Linked DNA regions of Homo sapiens: region 1 is linked to region 2. The links come from fine-mapping of genetic effects on gene expression. Tissue or cell type: lung. Region 2 holds a variant in brackets; the other region holds the start of a gene. All regions are shown on one strand. Distances are from middle to middle.

The links. PIP is the estimated chance that this variant, and not a neighbour inherited with it, causes the effect.
Region 1: TENM2 starts here. The variant in region 2 is fine-mapped to the expression of TENM2 in lung (GTEx, PIP 0.93).

Annotation. Positions count from the first base shown.
Region 1 is chr5:166,974,933-166,983,160 of GRCh38, reverse strand. It overlaps TENM2 (teneurin transmembrane protein 2), which reads right to left and starts at 4,132. Exons shown (of 31, transcript NM_001395460.1): 1 at 3,638-4,132. RefSeq lists enhancers at 4,074-4,573, 4,574-5,075.
Region 2 is chr5:167,964,029-167,972,256 of GRCh38, reverse strand. The region is part of intron 6 of TENM2 (teneurin transmembrane protein 2); the gene reads right to left. Among named protein-coding and RNA genes, the nearest start is that of TENM2-AS3, 15 kb to the right of the region's middle. The variant G/A (reference allele first, on the strand shown) is at 4,341.

The sequences.
Region 1 (8,228 bases), 990 kb after region 2:
GACCTGATATATTATCCTCTTATTACACAGTCTTAAAACACCTAAAATAATTATGTTAAGTAGTGGTTTATGTTTATTAAGGAGAGAAAACAACCCAAAATAATTTTTAAAAAGTCTGTTGCTGATAGTGCATAGTACTGAACAATGTGAACATTCCCTCTTTAAAGCAAAATATAAACCAGAAGTACAAAGAATACTTTGACAAAACTGCTATTTGCTCTCAGCAAATAAGACTCATAAAATTACTGTTGCTTTCACAAAACTTAAAGCAGAGTATTATGTAGTTAGAAAATACATCATGCTTAATCAAATACTGCTATGTCCCCTACTACTGAGAATGTATCAAAAGACATGTCTCCTCCCCCCCCCAAAAAAAACATATATATATGTCTTGCAATGTTCCCTGAAGGTTGGGAATCTGTGGTATATACTATGAGTGCAGAATGGGGGGTTTCTCCTTGTGAGTACATCAGGGCTACTGGGAACCAGCAGTTCAAAGAACAAAACTGTTGCTTTACACAAAGTAATGAAAGACAATAACATAGGCTTTTCATGTTGCCCCCTTCAAGCTAAGTAGGGTGATGCTAAGTTGTGCCTCTTTAAGTCTGTCTTTCTGTTTAAGTTTTAGTTCTCAAGTGGGAAGGGACAAAAAGGCCCTTGGAAATGACCTTGACCATATTTCACCAGAAATCACTTCTCAAAATTAATCTGCACAGAAAGAAAACAATGAAAAAAACTAGCCAAACAGGTTTTCCTTAAAAACACACAAGTAGTTCAAAGTTCCCTTCAATTGCACAATGAAAAAATAGCAATTAATGTTAAGAAACATTCAGTAGCTATAGCATAATAAAGGATTCACACATGCAGAGAAACCTCCATTCTTATCAAAATGAAAGTAGGAACTCTAACAATACAGCCAAATGTGATTGACAAGTTCCATGAATCAACAGTCTCGGATACCTATCTTTCTACATAGCCATCACCCCAAGTTACCTTCTCCCCAGTTAAGTCCAATGCCATGCTGAAATTTAACAAGAAGACCAGTTGAAATGAAACTATCTAAGTTACCAGCAAGGCTATCAAGATGATAGTATTATTTTCATACATTAACCTGAAATCAACACTAGGCACAAAAAGTTAAAAGAAGCTTAGTTAAGATTTAATTAACAAACTTAATAATTATTATCATAATAAACCCATCAACAAGCCACAAACACAATACCACACCAAACGATGTAAGAGTCATACAAATCCAGTTGTTTGAATAGTAATCTAACCTGGTATCACACCCAAAATGTAGATATGTTTAATATTTTAACACAAATTATCAGAGCTTTTCAGAAGTTGCCAGGAAACTAGAAGTAGACAGAGGGGTGGCTGGGTAAAAAAAACAACCTCAGTAGGAAAAAAATGTTCTTTAAATCAACGTACTCATAGTCTTCGAGTCTAGTGAAGATACTGAAACTGAAGCTAATTTTGATGTTTCATAAATAAATTCATGATCTGAATATGTTACATAACAATTAGAAATCTTGCCCCACGAGCCTAGCAAAATAAGCCCTTAGCCTGGTCAGTTATCTTTTCCTACACATGTGTGTGGAATATGCCAGAGAAATAATACAGCTGCCCAGCATGGGGTATATTGCTTTTTGGTTTGGGTCCTAGAAGGAGGGAACCTGACGCTTTAGGTACCTTGGGTTCTTAGGATTGAAGTTTACTATATGAAATCATTTTTCTTTAGTACCTAGACAAACAAATGCTTCACTCAAAGACAACTGTGGTCTTAATGAATGCAAGCTGGATTTTCCCCCCACTAACTTGATCAAAACAGTCCATTCAAAGGTCCATGAAAATATTTTAAAACAGCAATATTGCCATCTCAAGGGACCCATGAATAAGCTGAGCTTTCATTCTAAATAAAATGCCTTATTACTTTCAGCAGACTACAAAGGAAGAAATAAGCTTTAGGTCTTAGGAATTCTGTTCACAATTTTAAGAAAGGCTTTTGTCAACACAGGGGACCCAGAACAGGTGAATTTGCATGGTGCCTTAGAGTAGGTTTTTTTCTACATAAAAGAAGATCTGACTAGTTGAGTTAATTTACAGTTTGTTTTGTTTTTTGGGGCTGAAGAGCCTTCACTTTTTCATGTAGTTCTTCCAACATTAGTTAAGTTTACATTTAAACAAAGTTTAAGAGTATTATTGCAAACGTATTCTTGGCACATAGACAAGTTGCTGCTCTATGATGTGGCAACCACCTAGCAGAAGGAGGGTTCCTTGAATAACAACATTTTCCCTCTGTAGAATGTATGTGTCTCAGAGTATCCCTGAACTGGATGTCCTCATCTCAGTTTAGAGTTCAGGGTTTCTCAGGATGATGATACATGTACAGAAACTGCAACCTGCTGTACCACAGAGGCCCCCTTCCTCCATTTAAGCTGCCATTATATTAGTTCATTTTTCCATGGCTTAGCAGAAATTTTACAACTATACACTGATTCCTTTCTAAATTGCTGATTTGCCTTTACTCACTGGCCCTTCAGTTTTTCTACTCAACTGGAACTGAAAACTTAAGAGGAAAAAAGCAAAACAAATAAAACATGGTAATGATCAAGAACCCTCCAAAGAACTTTAAATGATATGAATGCATTAAAGAGCTGTTGTATATTAATTTTTAAATAATATTTAAAACAGATCCCGGCAGCCAGAGTTACAGAGTGAGTTCTATTTTTAAGAAAAGAGTTAGAGTTCAATTTGCATTCATTATGCTGGCTATTTTAAATAATTTTATTCCATGTGTATGCAGAACCCTCCCCTCCATTGACAAGATGCCACTTCAAGTAAGATCTAAGAGAGATATTGCTGTACGTGTCTCACAATTTTGAATAAAACAGTACCAGCAATCTCCCTCTTTCTCCATAGCCCTAAATTTATTATTAAGTAAATTTAGCAATAGCTCAATCACTGGAGCCCAAGACAGTATGTGATGCACTAAAGCACTTATATGTTTATTATCTTTTGCAAGCAACATGGGTAGTGGTGTCTATTATTGCCTCCTGCAAATCTGTAGCAATGTGATGCAAAACGGCATTTTTAAAGAAATTCTCTTTTGGAATGCAAATGATTCCTCCTGCAATTTTGAATATTTTAGCCAGCATGTACCATACAGTAGTTCTGGAATCACTGGCATCTCTCATGCTGTCAAAACTGAGTCAAATGCATTGTAATCCTGGAGAACGATAACCTTAAACAGCAATGCAACGTTAAAATGCATCCTAAAAAAAAATCCCTATAATTGCGATGAACATTAGAGAGAAACCGGCAGTCCTTCTGCAGGGAAATAACAGTCTGCTCTAGCAATCTTTCCCCTCCCCCCCTGAAACTCATGCAACTAATGATGACCTCCCGAAGTGCCGAATTTAAATGTTCCAGCATTCATCTGAGGATGAAGGAGGAAAAAAAAATACATAGAAAACCATGAAACAAGTTGTAAACTGCACAAACGCAAGGAGAGAAAGAGAACTGCAGCTGATTCAGGAGCGATTGCAGAATGAGGAGCAACAGAAAGGAAACAAGAAAGAAAGAAAAGGGGAAAAAAGCCTTAAGCATTAAAGAGTAAGAAGTGAAAAACATTTACCAGCAGCTCGGTCAGTAGCTTCGCTCCCTGACACCATCTACATAGATAACTTAGCCTAGAGTCTTCGGTCCCAGCTCGCTTTGGAGCAAAATTCCTTCACTTCGAGGGGGCAACACACACCCTCAAGAAAGAGAGAGAGAGGGAAAGAAGGGGAAAAAAAATAATCCCAAAGACCAAGACAGGCTTTCCCCCTCCTCCCTCTTACCCGCCCCCCGGACTCCCCAAACGGTGCTCGCTTCTGCACAGTTCTGCCTGCTGTGCCGCTGAGCTCGATGTTGCCGCGGCGGCTGCTGCTGCTGCTGCTGCTGCTGCTGCTGCTGCTGCTGCTGGTGGTGGTGCTGCTGCTGCTACTTCGGAAACGATTAGGAGGAGGACGCCCAAGCACGACCTGAGCCTGCGAGCCACCCAGGACCAATGTGCAACCTGCTCTGGAATCAAACCCATAACACACGCACGCACACCCAGTGACTCCTGCACGCGAGCTCTCGCGCGCACACACGCGCTCGCCCGCGCGCCGCACAACACACGCGCGCGCGCGCACACACAAACACACACACACACACACACACACACACACACACACAGAGCGCCGTGCGCCGCCCGCTAGCCCTCGCGGTCCCTGAATGGGGAGTGCGAGCCAATCCCTGGGCCCCGAGAGCGCGCACCGGCCCAGGCCGCCGGGGTTGGGTGGTGGCGCTGGGGCTGCAGCTGCTGTGGCTGCGGGGTACGCAGCCAGGGAGGGGCTCACGGCTGAGAAAGAGGGGCGCTAGGGACACGTGCACCCCTTTGTCTGCAGAGAGAACCCCAGCTGGGCGTTTCCAAGACCAGGAACTGAGCGCGCGAACCCCGGGCGGCTCAGAGTTCAGTTCGGCTCTAGGGTTAGCCTGAGGAGGCTTGGATCCCTAGCTGCACGCACCGAGGGATCCGCTCGGCACCCGATGCACCACATCTATGCACCACAGCTACACCCAGGTCTCTGCAAACAGGAGAGCACAGCAAGCCTTCGAGTCCTGCGGACGACCCGAGCCTGCCCTGGCTCTCGCGAGCATGTCCAGTGCTTGGCTGCACCCAGACCGCTTCTTCCAGGGTTAGGAACGCAGAGCAGGGCAGAGCCGAGCTCTGCAGCTTCCAGAGAGAAGCAAAGGTTCCAGAGTCTTCAGCCGCTGCTCACCTGCCTCATCTAGGCTGCCCGGTGGCTCTGAACCTGCACCCAAGGACGTAGTGATGGGGAAGCTAGATTTCCAGACGTCAGAGAGGAGTTACTTCTCTTTTTTTCATATAGGGAATCTTTGAAAAGAAACAATTCTTAGCCCAGGAAAGGCTGTTTCAGTTTACAGGGTAATTAACAGAAAATCCAGCAGGGCCTGGTGGTTTTAATAGTAACAGCTGAACAAGTATTGCTTGTTCAGCTCTGTGCAGGCTCTGTGGAATGTGTTGCCTATGAATTATCTGATTTTAACCTGTTCAGACACTGTATGATCCACCCTAGGAGGAAACCGAGGCCCCAGAATGTTACCAACTGCTAGTATATCATACCCAATACATCAAGAATCTAAACCCTGCAGTCTGGCCCTCAGTCACTGGAGACAGGATGAGGAGTGTGGATGAACGCTAGGCAAGTACAGCAAGGTAAAGGCCTGGTGGGTGTTTGGGTGATAACATCCTCTGGCCTTCAAGCTGTACCTGGCTTGTTGTCTTCAATAACCTACAAACCTTGAAAAACTGCATGCCTGAAATTTGCCAATGTCTTCATAGTACTAATATTAATAATACTTATCTCTTGATTACATACTCTTGTTCATCCTTTAATTAGGTGCCATCTTAATCTTTAAAGGAACTCTGTAAAGAAACTATCCTACCCCCCTTCTACATATGAGGAGGCTGAGACTGAGATGTGGTGTCACTTCCCTCAAGGGACAGGCCCTGAATGAAGACACTGTTTGTCCTATTGCAAGGTCTATGCTGTTTTTTACTAGAATTTGCATCTCCCTTAATTGCCTTCTGAATAAAGCCATGGGATGAGGCCATGGCAGTTACTTTTGATTTCATTCAAGAAATTCATTGATTTTGTAACATTCACTCATTCAAGGATATTTACTGAGCATTTACTTCCTTCAAGGTGCTATCCTAGTGGTGACGGGATGACAAGGGCATTATCTCTATACTCTTTGGGCTTATATTCTAACAAGAAGACGGTGATCATATGCTTAAAATGCTAATGAGGGGCATTTACTGAGGGCTTGCTAGGAATGCATTTCTCTCCCCTCTTCATCTAGCAAACTCCTATTTATCCTTCATCTATCTCTTCCAGCATCAACTTCTTCAGGGAAGTCGTGAGATCTTTCTGGGTTATTACAGGTGTTCAAGGCATCATGTAACTTTAAAAAATTTGTGGTAGCTTCAGTTTTCCACTTGTGTTATGATTTAGCTAGTGTATGTCTCCTAGACACACATGAACCCTCTAGACTGTAAACTCCATGGGGGCAAGAATGTGTCTCTTTTAATTAAACTCACTCTCACTCTCTACCACACACACACACACACACACACACACACACACACACAAACTACTCTTGGAATAAGAATAATAATTCCTAGGAGAGGGGAGCTGTTTTTATTCCCAATTCACAGATGAGTAAAATGTGGCTGAGTAAGATTAAGTAGCTTGCCCAAGGTCACATACCTGGATAACTGGCAGAGAAGGACTCCCACGCAGGTCTGTCTGGTGCTACAGTCCACATGACTAACCCCTGTCATGTTGTCCAACAGCCAATCAGACTACATGAAAGGGGATCATGGGAAATAAGGTAGACAGATGCTGGGGATGGCATTATGGGGGAATACAGAAGTAACAGAGATAAATCATTCAGTATAGTAAGAATTAAAGAGGCATGCAGTAGAATTTTTTGAGACAGGGTCTTGCCCCGTGGCCCAGGCTGGAGTGCAGTGGCACGATCTTCACTCACTGCAACCTCCGCCTCCCAGGTTCAAGTGATTCTCGTGCCTCAGCCTCTGGAGTAGCTGGGATTACAGGCATGCACCATCACGCCCGGCGGATTTTTGTATTTTTAGTAGAGATGGGGTTTCACCATGTTGGCCATGCTGATTTTGAACTCCTGGCCTCAGTGATCCACCCGCCTCGGCCTCCCAAATTGCTGGAATTACAGGCATTAGCCACCTCGCCAAGGATATTCTTAATCTACTATGGGCACCCACCATGTGCTAGGCAACTTGCTCAGATTTTTTTTTCTCATTTTAACCTTAACAATTCTTTTGGCTAAGCATGGTTATTTCCAATTACAGACAATGAAACAGACTCCCCAACAAACCTGACTATAAACTCCAGGGGTACAGTGATATGTCTACTTTAATTTCCCATTTTATCTCATAGTATCTGCCAGCTAAAGTCACTCTCTGTTCCTCTCTCAACCCCTCTCTTACACACACACACACACACACACACAGACACACACAGACACACACACACACACACACACACACGCAATTCGCCCAAGGTCTTACAGCTAGTAAGTAGCAGAGTTAGGATTTGAGGCCAGGTCTGTCTTCACCGTTTCAGAGGAGGTTGGTATGGGGGCGAGGTGATGTCAGTGTGGTGTTGCAGTTTAGCCATGCTATAGTATTTGATAATGCCGGAGGATCTAACTGCCAGGGAGAGATACTGCCGGTGCATTTTCCCCTTCATCAAATCTTATAAGGAATTTGAGATTCAAAGACTTAAAGTTATTTTACCAAGGTCACAACCAGTGTCACAATGCAGAGCTACATTCTAAACCCAGGCATCTCTCACTGCAGACGTGTGGTACAGGATGTTGTAAATGGCACTGGGGCTTTCCAAGATTTTCAGCAAATCCTGGCTGGGGGAACCCTCACTCAGAGAGGACATGCTGTCCAGAGCCAAGCAAGCCTTCTGCACCACTCCTCCCACCTGTTACCTCTCCTCGAGGCTCCACCTTTGTTCAGGCCCCTGTTCCTCTGCCTTTTCAGGCCTTACCTGGAACCCAATGCCTCACTGCCTCCCTGCTCATTGTCAGCAGCAGCAGTGGCTACAAGCCACGGTAAAGTAAAAACTGCATTTTGTCCAGCTCTGCTTCTAAGCTGACTGCTGGGCATGCTCAGTGATAAAGGGAAGCTTTGATTACAAATAGGAAGCTTTTGTTAAACACCTTTCCATTTTGGAGTATTACTTTGTAACTGGATCAGTGTGTGTAGCCCGTTGCAGAGATCCCTAGGCTATACCAATCAGGTCTGTAAGAATGAGATGCTTCCACATGGAAAAATATCTCCATCCTTTGCATCCTCTACCTTATCTCCAGCATTCATCTCGCTGTTCTGTCCTCTCTGTAAGTGCACACAAAGAGCATCCACAAACTGTATCCGTTCTATTTACATACCTCACAGCTATAGACATATGCATCCAGCTACAAATACATACCAGCCCTTGACTGTGGATTTGTTTCTTGCAATTGTTTGGCCATTAACTTGCTCTACACTGAAATGTTATGAATAAAGTGAAGTTTCTAAGAAAAGGCTAAATATTAACCTCTCTTTTCTCCCTCCTCCACCCCCCTCC
Region 2 (8,228 bases):
AAAGCCTAAAATAATCAACCTTCAAATGAAATTTCCTTGAAAATGGAAATTGAAAAGCAGGGAATATTCCTTTCCATTTTCTGTCTATGTGTTGAATATTTTACCAAGAGAATGTGTACATTCTACAATAAAATAACTGAAAAGACAAAAGCTGTTGCAATATGTGCTCTAATTCTTTGCCTTAAATTCATGACCTTTCCTTTGCAGAAGGAAATGGAGATAAATATTCTGTGTGGGATAAGTAGGCACCAACATTCCCTAATCATGCAGGAAATAGTGAGGGGTGCTGGGGAAAGCTCTGGCCAGAGGCCTGCCTTCCAGCCCCACTCCGGCATTTATAGTGGAAGGCGCTGGCGTGTTGTGGAACTTTCTGAGCTTCACTCTCCTTGTCTGTAAAAATAGACATTGGACTATACTAGGTGATCTTAACTTGGTTTCCAGTTTGAAAACTCTGCCTCTGTGCAGCCAAATGATGACCCCTTCACTTAAATGATCAGGGCTCAGGGTTTTTTTTGTTTTTGTTTTGTTTTGTTTTGTTTTGTTTGTTTGTTTGTTTTAGATGGAGTCTCACTCTGTCACCCAGGCTGGAGTGCAGTGGCGCGATCTTGGCTCACTGCAACCTTCGCCTCCCAGGTTCAAGCAATTCTCCTGCCTCAGCCTCCCAAGTAGCTGGGATTATAGGCGTGCACCACCACGCCTGGCTAATTTTAGTATTTTTAATAGACACGAAGTTTCACCATGTTCGTCAGGCTGGTCTTGAACTCCTGACCTCAAGTGATCCACCTGCCTCGGCCTCCCAAAGTTCTGGGATTACAGGTGTGAGGCACCGCGTCCAGCTGGGCTCAGTTGTTTTGGCCAACCCAATTCATGTTGACCTTGACTCCTTCTAATATTTTCTAATGTAGTGGTCAGAATCAAGGGCCGACCTCCCTGAAGAGGGCATCTATTTTTTTCCATATCTGCATCACCAGGTCCCTTTTTCCCCTTTCTTTCTCTCTCTCTCTCTGCCTCCCTTTATCTCTATCTCCATCTCTCTCTCTTTATCTCTATCTCTGTCTCTATCTCTATCATCTCTATCTCTATCTCTGTCTCTCCCTTTCTGCCTGAATTAGCTATTTGGGGTAAGCTCTGTGAAGAATGCTATACTTCGCTCTTTTCCCCAAACTGAATGGTATTATGAATTTGAAGATGCACATTATCGACAGGACATGAGGATGTCCCCATTGTAACACTGCTTTTATGTTTCCAAAGACAAAGCAAATAGTAGTGAAACTGAAAAAACAAAGTATACGCAGACATATACTGAATATGCGCCTTCTACCTTGTTCCCAGCCCACCCCAGTGCCACCACACACACGATTATATTGAAATTCTCGGTGGGTTTAAATGCATGTGTGCCACCCTTACCCCCTGCTGCACTGAAGCTTACAACCTCTAATAATATCAGATTAATTCACTGGAGTATAAACAGCAATGGGCACCATTATGAACATTAGGACGTGTTGCATGTTAGGACAAAAATTTTTATCTAATTAAACACAGAACTATTCTGATATTACCTATACTCATTATGGAGCTATCTGACCCCTGCAATCTGTCTCACCTACACACACCACAACAAACAGAATATACTGCATTGCTGAGAATATTAGGAGCTTGAAGCATGGAGTTAAATGTTTCCCATTCATGGTTTTATTAAAAAGCAAAACCAAAAGTTCTTCGAAGTCATTCAACTTGATAAGGCAAAACTGCTTCTCCAGCCATTTCCAAGAGAGAGGAAATGCATCGAGATGTTTTGAGTTAACTTTCTCATCATGAGCCCTCATAAAGAGCACTGGTTAGTAAGACAATAAATGAGCATGTTTTAATTAGAAAATGTGGAATCCAAGCACTTTTGCAGGAAAGAAGATGATAGCTTAAAAGAGATGTCAGGAGACTAATAAAAGTTAAAATGCATTAAGTGGCCACAGTGAACTCAAAAGTAAAGTCGTGGGACGTTTGAGAAGTCAACCAGAGAGGGTGATGAGTCAGAAGGGGGCAGAAGTTAGTCAGTGAAACTTAATTTTTTCGACTTCTTATTGGAATCAGCTGTAAACCCCCTTCTGTGCTCTGGCAAGTGAGATAACTCAATGTCCTGCAATTTCCCCACCCTGGCCGGGACTGTGTCTGCCTGGAGGAGAAAATCATTACAATCAGGCAATATGAGCTGGGCTGTGACCAAATTAACATTGAATGTGGCCTGAGTTGGTCTGTGGCTTTTGCCTGCCAGCCCTCCATTTCAGGGTCTCCTAATAGCACGATGTTTGGTTATGGGCCACACTCCTTCCTCTCCACTATGAGGCCCCCACATGGGCACGTGATCCAGGCCTGGCCAATTAATGTGGTCTGCTCGCCAAGACTCCAGGCTTGAGGCTTGGGTCAGTTGTGGGCATGTGACTCTAGTTGGATTCCATGAGACTCAATCAAGGGAGTGTTGTTGAAATGTCAAGAAGTGCTTTACTTTCTGTTAGGTTTCTAAGCTTTGAGAATATAGCATATAGTTACCATAAAAATCCCACAAGAGGAGGCCTACATAACAGCGATGGTAGAAAGTAAAGAAGTGCAAGGCTGAGAGACTCCCAAAGCCTGAGTTTAAGTATTACTTGAATCCTGTTCTGTCAGGATCTTCTCTCTGTCCCAAATCCTCCACTTTCTCAAGTTTCATTTTCCTGATATGTTGAAAGGGGACAAGAACATCTGTATTGGTCTGTTCTTACGCTGCTAATAAAGACATACCCGAGACTGGGTAATTTATAAAGAGAAAGAGGTTTAATGGACTTACAGTTCCACATGGCTGAGGAGGCCTCACAGTCATGGCAGAAGGCAAGGAGGAGCAAGTCACGTCTCACATGGATGACAGCAGGCAAAGAGAGTGCTTGTGTAGGGAAACTCCCCCTTATAAAACCATCAGATCTCATGAGACTTATTCACTACCACGAGAAGAGCATGGGAAAGACCCGCCCCCATGATTAAATTAACTCCCACCAGCAGGTCCCTACCACAACACGTGGGAATTGTTGGAGCTACAATTCAAGATGAGATTTGGGTGTCAACACAGCCAAACCCTATCAACATCTCTCCCCTAAGGGCTTTAATTCAGATAACATGATGTAAAGTGCCTAGTATCCTACTGGGCACAAAGTCGGCATTTCAGAGATGATTATGTCTAAAAACAAAGACCAAAAGGAGTGGTCCGTGGTTTCCAAGAAGTGAAAAGATTGTCAATAGAACTACAATGTCTCCTTGTATGGATTCTGAGAGTTAGAAGCTGGAAAAGATGACTGAGTACAAGAACATCCAGAAAATGCACATGTGCATAGCACCGCCCCTTGCACAGGGGGCTTGTAAATTTATTCCTTCATTTTCCTGAATTGGTGAGAGTGGGGATGGGGGAGAGTAGAGCTCCTTAGAGTCCCACCAAATGCTTCAGTGGGCCTAATAGCTCCCTGTGCCTTCTCATTACATGTCCCCAAGTATAGTGGAGAGGATCTGCGTTGATAAGAAATAAGAAAGTCACTAAGATCATCGAAAATTCTTATCTAAGAACATACCAGTGTTAAGTAAAGCAACATTTCCCACCTTCCCTTTAGGGCGGGATTTTAACCCTTTGTTCAAATAATTAAAAAATAAAATAAAAATTTAAAGGTCGTATTATTGGTGTGCAATACCTTTACAGGAGTATTAATTGTTGAGAAATGGACTCATGAATGCTGGTTCGCAATTGAAGCTCTAGCAAATTGAAATCTGATTTCAGTACCATTTAACACATAGAAAAGAATTGGTATTCAGTCTCTTTTGAACTATAAGGCATACACAGCTTAAGTACAAATGACAGCAATTGGAGGTATTTCCTCACTCCTAAACAGTTATTTTGAGCAAGAAATGATTCAATAAGGGATTTGAAAAATACACGATTTTGAGGGTGATCCTTTGTGCAGCGCTTTGCCATGACCTCTCAAAGGAGTATTTGCAAAGAATACTCACAGAATGGCCCCAAATTGTCTGGTGGGTTTTGAAAGAAAAAAACCTAATGTAGGAAAAGTTTTTTTAAACATTCCCATAAAATCTAAAGGATGCAGCTGCAGCTGAGCAGAATGGCTGAGTATCTCGTGACGGTTTGCAAGTCTGGGGACATAAGATTCCAACTCACAAAAGCAAATAAGGCCAAGACTAATAAATCAAAGGTGCCTTCAGAAAAGTTGCAGGACCTACTTCCCCTGCCTGGTAGGACTGCGGATGCCTTATCTGGCTTCTGCGAAAAGAAAAGGATCATCAGGGAGCCAGAATTAGAAAGGACTTGC[G/A]CTTCATCAAGTTTCTCCCTGTCTGAGCCAGATAAAATATCCTCTGGGAAGACTTCAGGAAGTGCCTCAAGGGAATGACAGTTGATATTAGTTGAATGGGTGAAAGAGCACAGACAGAGATGGAAATATTTGGCTTTTTTCAACTGTGAACTTAACCCCAGAGTCTTCGACATTTACACAGACTCAGGGCAAAGTCTTGCTCTTACAATGCATGACCACAGGGTGGTCTCAATTTGTAATTGGGTCCCCACGGTAAAGGCTGCTGAGGGATGGATTTTTATTTTTCTTTTTTTTAAGTTCTTTCTACCTAGAGACTTAGCTGTGGTACCCTGCAATAAGAAGTTCAATTCCTCAATAAGTTTTTAATTTTGTAGAGGCAGGCAAATTTAAAAAGGACAGCTTCTCCTTAGGTACCTCCACTTTCCAGGATGCTTCCAAGTTTGCAGACCATGCCAAGAATAGGCTGGAGTGGTCTTGAATAAGATGTAATGCTTGTTTCTTTCTTAATGCACCTTGTAATTTGCACACGTGCCACAACACTTTATTTATTTTCTTATTAATGGGTTCGAGTGTGTTTAACACCACAAGCCATAAATTACAGAGCAGTGGATTAGACTAGGCTTGCTTTATTTTCCTGCCAATTATCAGAAAGTGATGTGGGGGATGAGGTGCCCCTCCTAACCAGCTTTTTCTCTGCCACCTCCCTTGCCTCCATCCAACAACCAACCCCCTTGTTTCCATCTGCCAAGAAAAAAAAAAGACACAGCCTGGTCTCTCATTGGTGAGCTTGCCTATTGAGCAGCTCAGTTATTGAGATTAATAAGCTGCCAGTTTCCAAGGAAGACTAAGAAAACTGCAAAATTAAAGTGCACTGCAACATGAAATGCTGCTGGTGGCCAGGCGAGATCGTGGTGTCAAAAAGGCAAGGTAAAGCTATAAAATAAGGCTGAGCTTGAAAGGCTAATCTAAAGGTCTCATTAATTTCCATGTTGCCTGTGATGAGAATTTAGAGGGGGCATAATGTTTTGCAATACAGAGAAATCAAGCTGCCTATTGATTTGAAAGTGCTTCGATGCATTTGGTTCACCCAGAATGAATCCTACCTTTAAACCTCACTTGAAAACATTAAAAAACAAACAAAAAAGCAAACAGGTTGCCTAGGTTTAATATTCTAAAGATCAGGCTTGTCAGTGATTCTGTCAGAAAATTAATCCTTAGGTAGAAAAATCAATCTGAGAACAAGTTTGGAATAGTCTTTGCACTCAGCATGGTGAAGATGTTTCAACAATCTTGTTTCTTCTCTGTGAAAGCCTCATTTACTGAAGGTCTTGAATCTCGATTTCCAAATACGCACTACCAATAAGGCATCCAGATTAGTCTAAGATTGCTTCTTCTTGAAGACAAAAAGTGTGTTTTTAAAAATTCTGACACCAAAATTAGATTCCTTAGATACCACTCAGCAAGCCCAACATGCTCAATTCTTTTTCTGAGCACTTGTCATGCTTCCTGCTAACAGGAACAAGGATGATATTCAAGGGATGCCCCAAGGGTCAGCCATGGCACCCATGGCTGTTGCGCTTTCTCCCAGCAATCTGGCAGAGCTCTGTTTAGAATGAAAAAGATCCTACGAGTTGCAGAGCTAAACAAGTAGCTGTGCTTCTTAATTCTCCCTTGTCAATCTGCACTCATATTTTATAATATGCAGGGCATAAAACCTCTCCCCGTAAATCATATGCTATGCTGCCACCACCATGGAGTGGTGAGGCCTCAGATTTACCATCCGGGTTGCCACCAATTCCTCAGAGCTTCAGAGAAGGGTCTCTTGCATCTGGCCTGGCTTATGAGTTTGACAATGACTAAGTCTATGTCCAGTAACAGGCTGGAGTTCATCCCATAGATCATTTCTCGCCTTATGCCACTTGTAATGCATTGACTTCATTTCATGGCCTAAGCAAATTAATTTGTTGTTTGCCATCAGGCTAGACAGAGTTTTTTCCAGCCCCCGCCCTTCCTAGTTCCCCAGGCATTATCATATGGTCATTAAGAATATGGGATTTAAAGTCAGGTCAACCCAGGTTCAAATTTCAGCTCTGTCACTTACTAATGGGTGACATGTAAATAACTTAATTCCCCCAGCCCTGGTTTCCCTGTATTTTAAATATGGATAGTAACATATACCTAACAAAGAGCTTAAGGGATTAAATGGGATCCTGTAGGTAAAGCTTAGTGCCAAGCAAAAAGTATTTGACAAAGAAAAGTTAGTATTCACAGGCCTATATGATTGTGTGAAATAAATTTAACAAATTTCTGGAGAGAATTTTTTTTCTTTTTTTTTAAGATGGAATCTCACGCTATCACCCAGGATGGAGCGCAGGGGTGTGATCATAGCTTACTGCAGCCTCCACATCCTGGGCTCAAGAGATTCTTCCATCTCAACCTCCCAGATTACTGGGATTATAGGTATGAACCACTGCATCTGGCCTGGAGAGACATTTTTTAAAGAGAAAAATCAATTGCTGAGGGCTTTGGATATACTACATATGCTATTATCTGTAAATGGATGATTTTCTGTGTTATACATATTATTTTAGAATCAAAATAAGTCTGGCCAATAACTGCACTCAATTCTCTTGCCTCATAAATGTAACATGTCCAAAACTGAACTTTTGTTTTCTGCCACAAAAACCTGTTCCTTCTTCAGCACATGACATTGCTATTCACCCAGACATCTAAGTCAAAAACTTGAAGAATCCTAACCTTCATCTTCAAATCCCAGCAATCATTAATTTCTACTGATCCTACCTTCAAACTATACCTCACATCTTTGAATATTCAGCACCACTCCCTAATCAAAGGCATGCCACTTTTTATCTTAACTATTATTTTATTTTCCAAACTGGACCTTTAGTCTTGCATACTTTCCACTCTAACTGCCCCCCAATCCATTTATCATAGGGCAGCTATCATTATTAAAAGCAAAAAGCAGAGTGTATCTTATTATTTTGCTCTCCTGCTTAAAAAGCTTCAGTGACTTTTAATTGTTCTCGAGGTAGAGTCCAAAAGCTTTAACATGGTCCAAAGCCTTGATCCATCTTGCCCTTGCCTACCTTTCTAGTTTGCTTTCTCTTGCTTTCTCTTTCTGGCACCTTAGTGTTTCTGCCCCTAGTGGCTCATTGTTTTTGTGATCTAGAGCACTCTTTAAGCCTGATTAACCCCTACTCATCCTTAAGGGCTCAGCTTAAATGTCCATTTCTTATGGGTCTGGCTTCTTCAGCCGTCTGTGGCACTTACTGCATTTGTCATGGTGTAAGGGACATTTGTTTATGTTCTGTCTGCTTCCAGCCTAGAATCTCCATAAGGACAGAGGTTTTGTTTTTCTCCTTTGCCGGATCCTCAGTGCCTGACACATGGTAGGTTCTCATAGCTATTTCTAGAATAATTAATGAATGACCATTTAAAAAGGCAAATTGCAAACCGTTTTGCAGCTTGAGGATCTTGATGATTAAAATTAGGGCTTCTAGTATGTCAGGGCAAAAGTGAACTCAGAGAGAAGTTTTGTCCTGCTTAGGGACTCTTTTTTGTGATCTACTGCTCAGACAGATCCAAAGAGAGACGCTTGCTTCAGCAAAACACACAAAGGAAGAAAAGTTAGGTTCTGTCACTGAGCTACTTTCTACTGTTTTAGACAAGAGAAGTTGACTTTAGAAACTCCCAAAGAAGCAGCCGACCGGGAAGATTTCTCACCTTGTCACTTTCAGCAGAGGAAGGAGTAGATAGGTGATATTGAACAAGAATTGCAAGTAGACTTTGTTTCAAAACCTTCTGTGAATAGGCTGGGAGGAAGGTGGAGGGTAGAGGGATTCTGTAACACACTACTTAAGAAAAGAC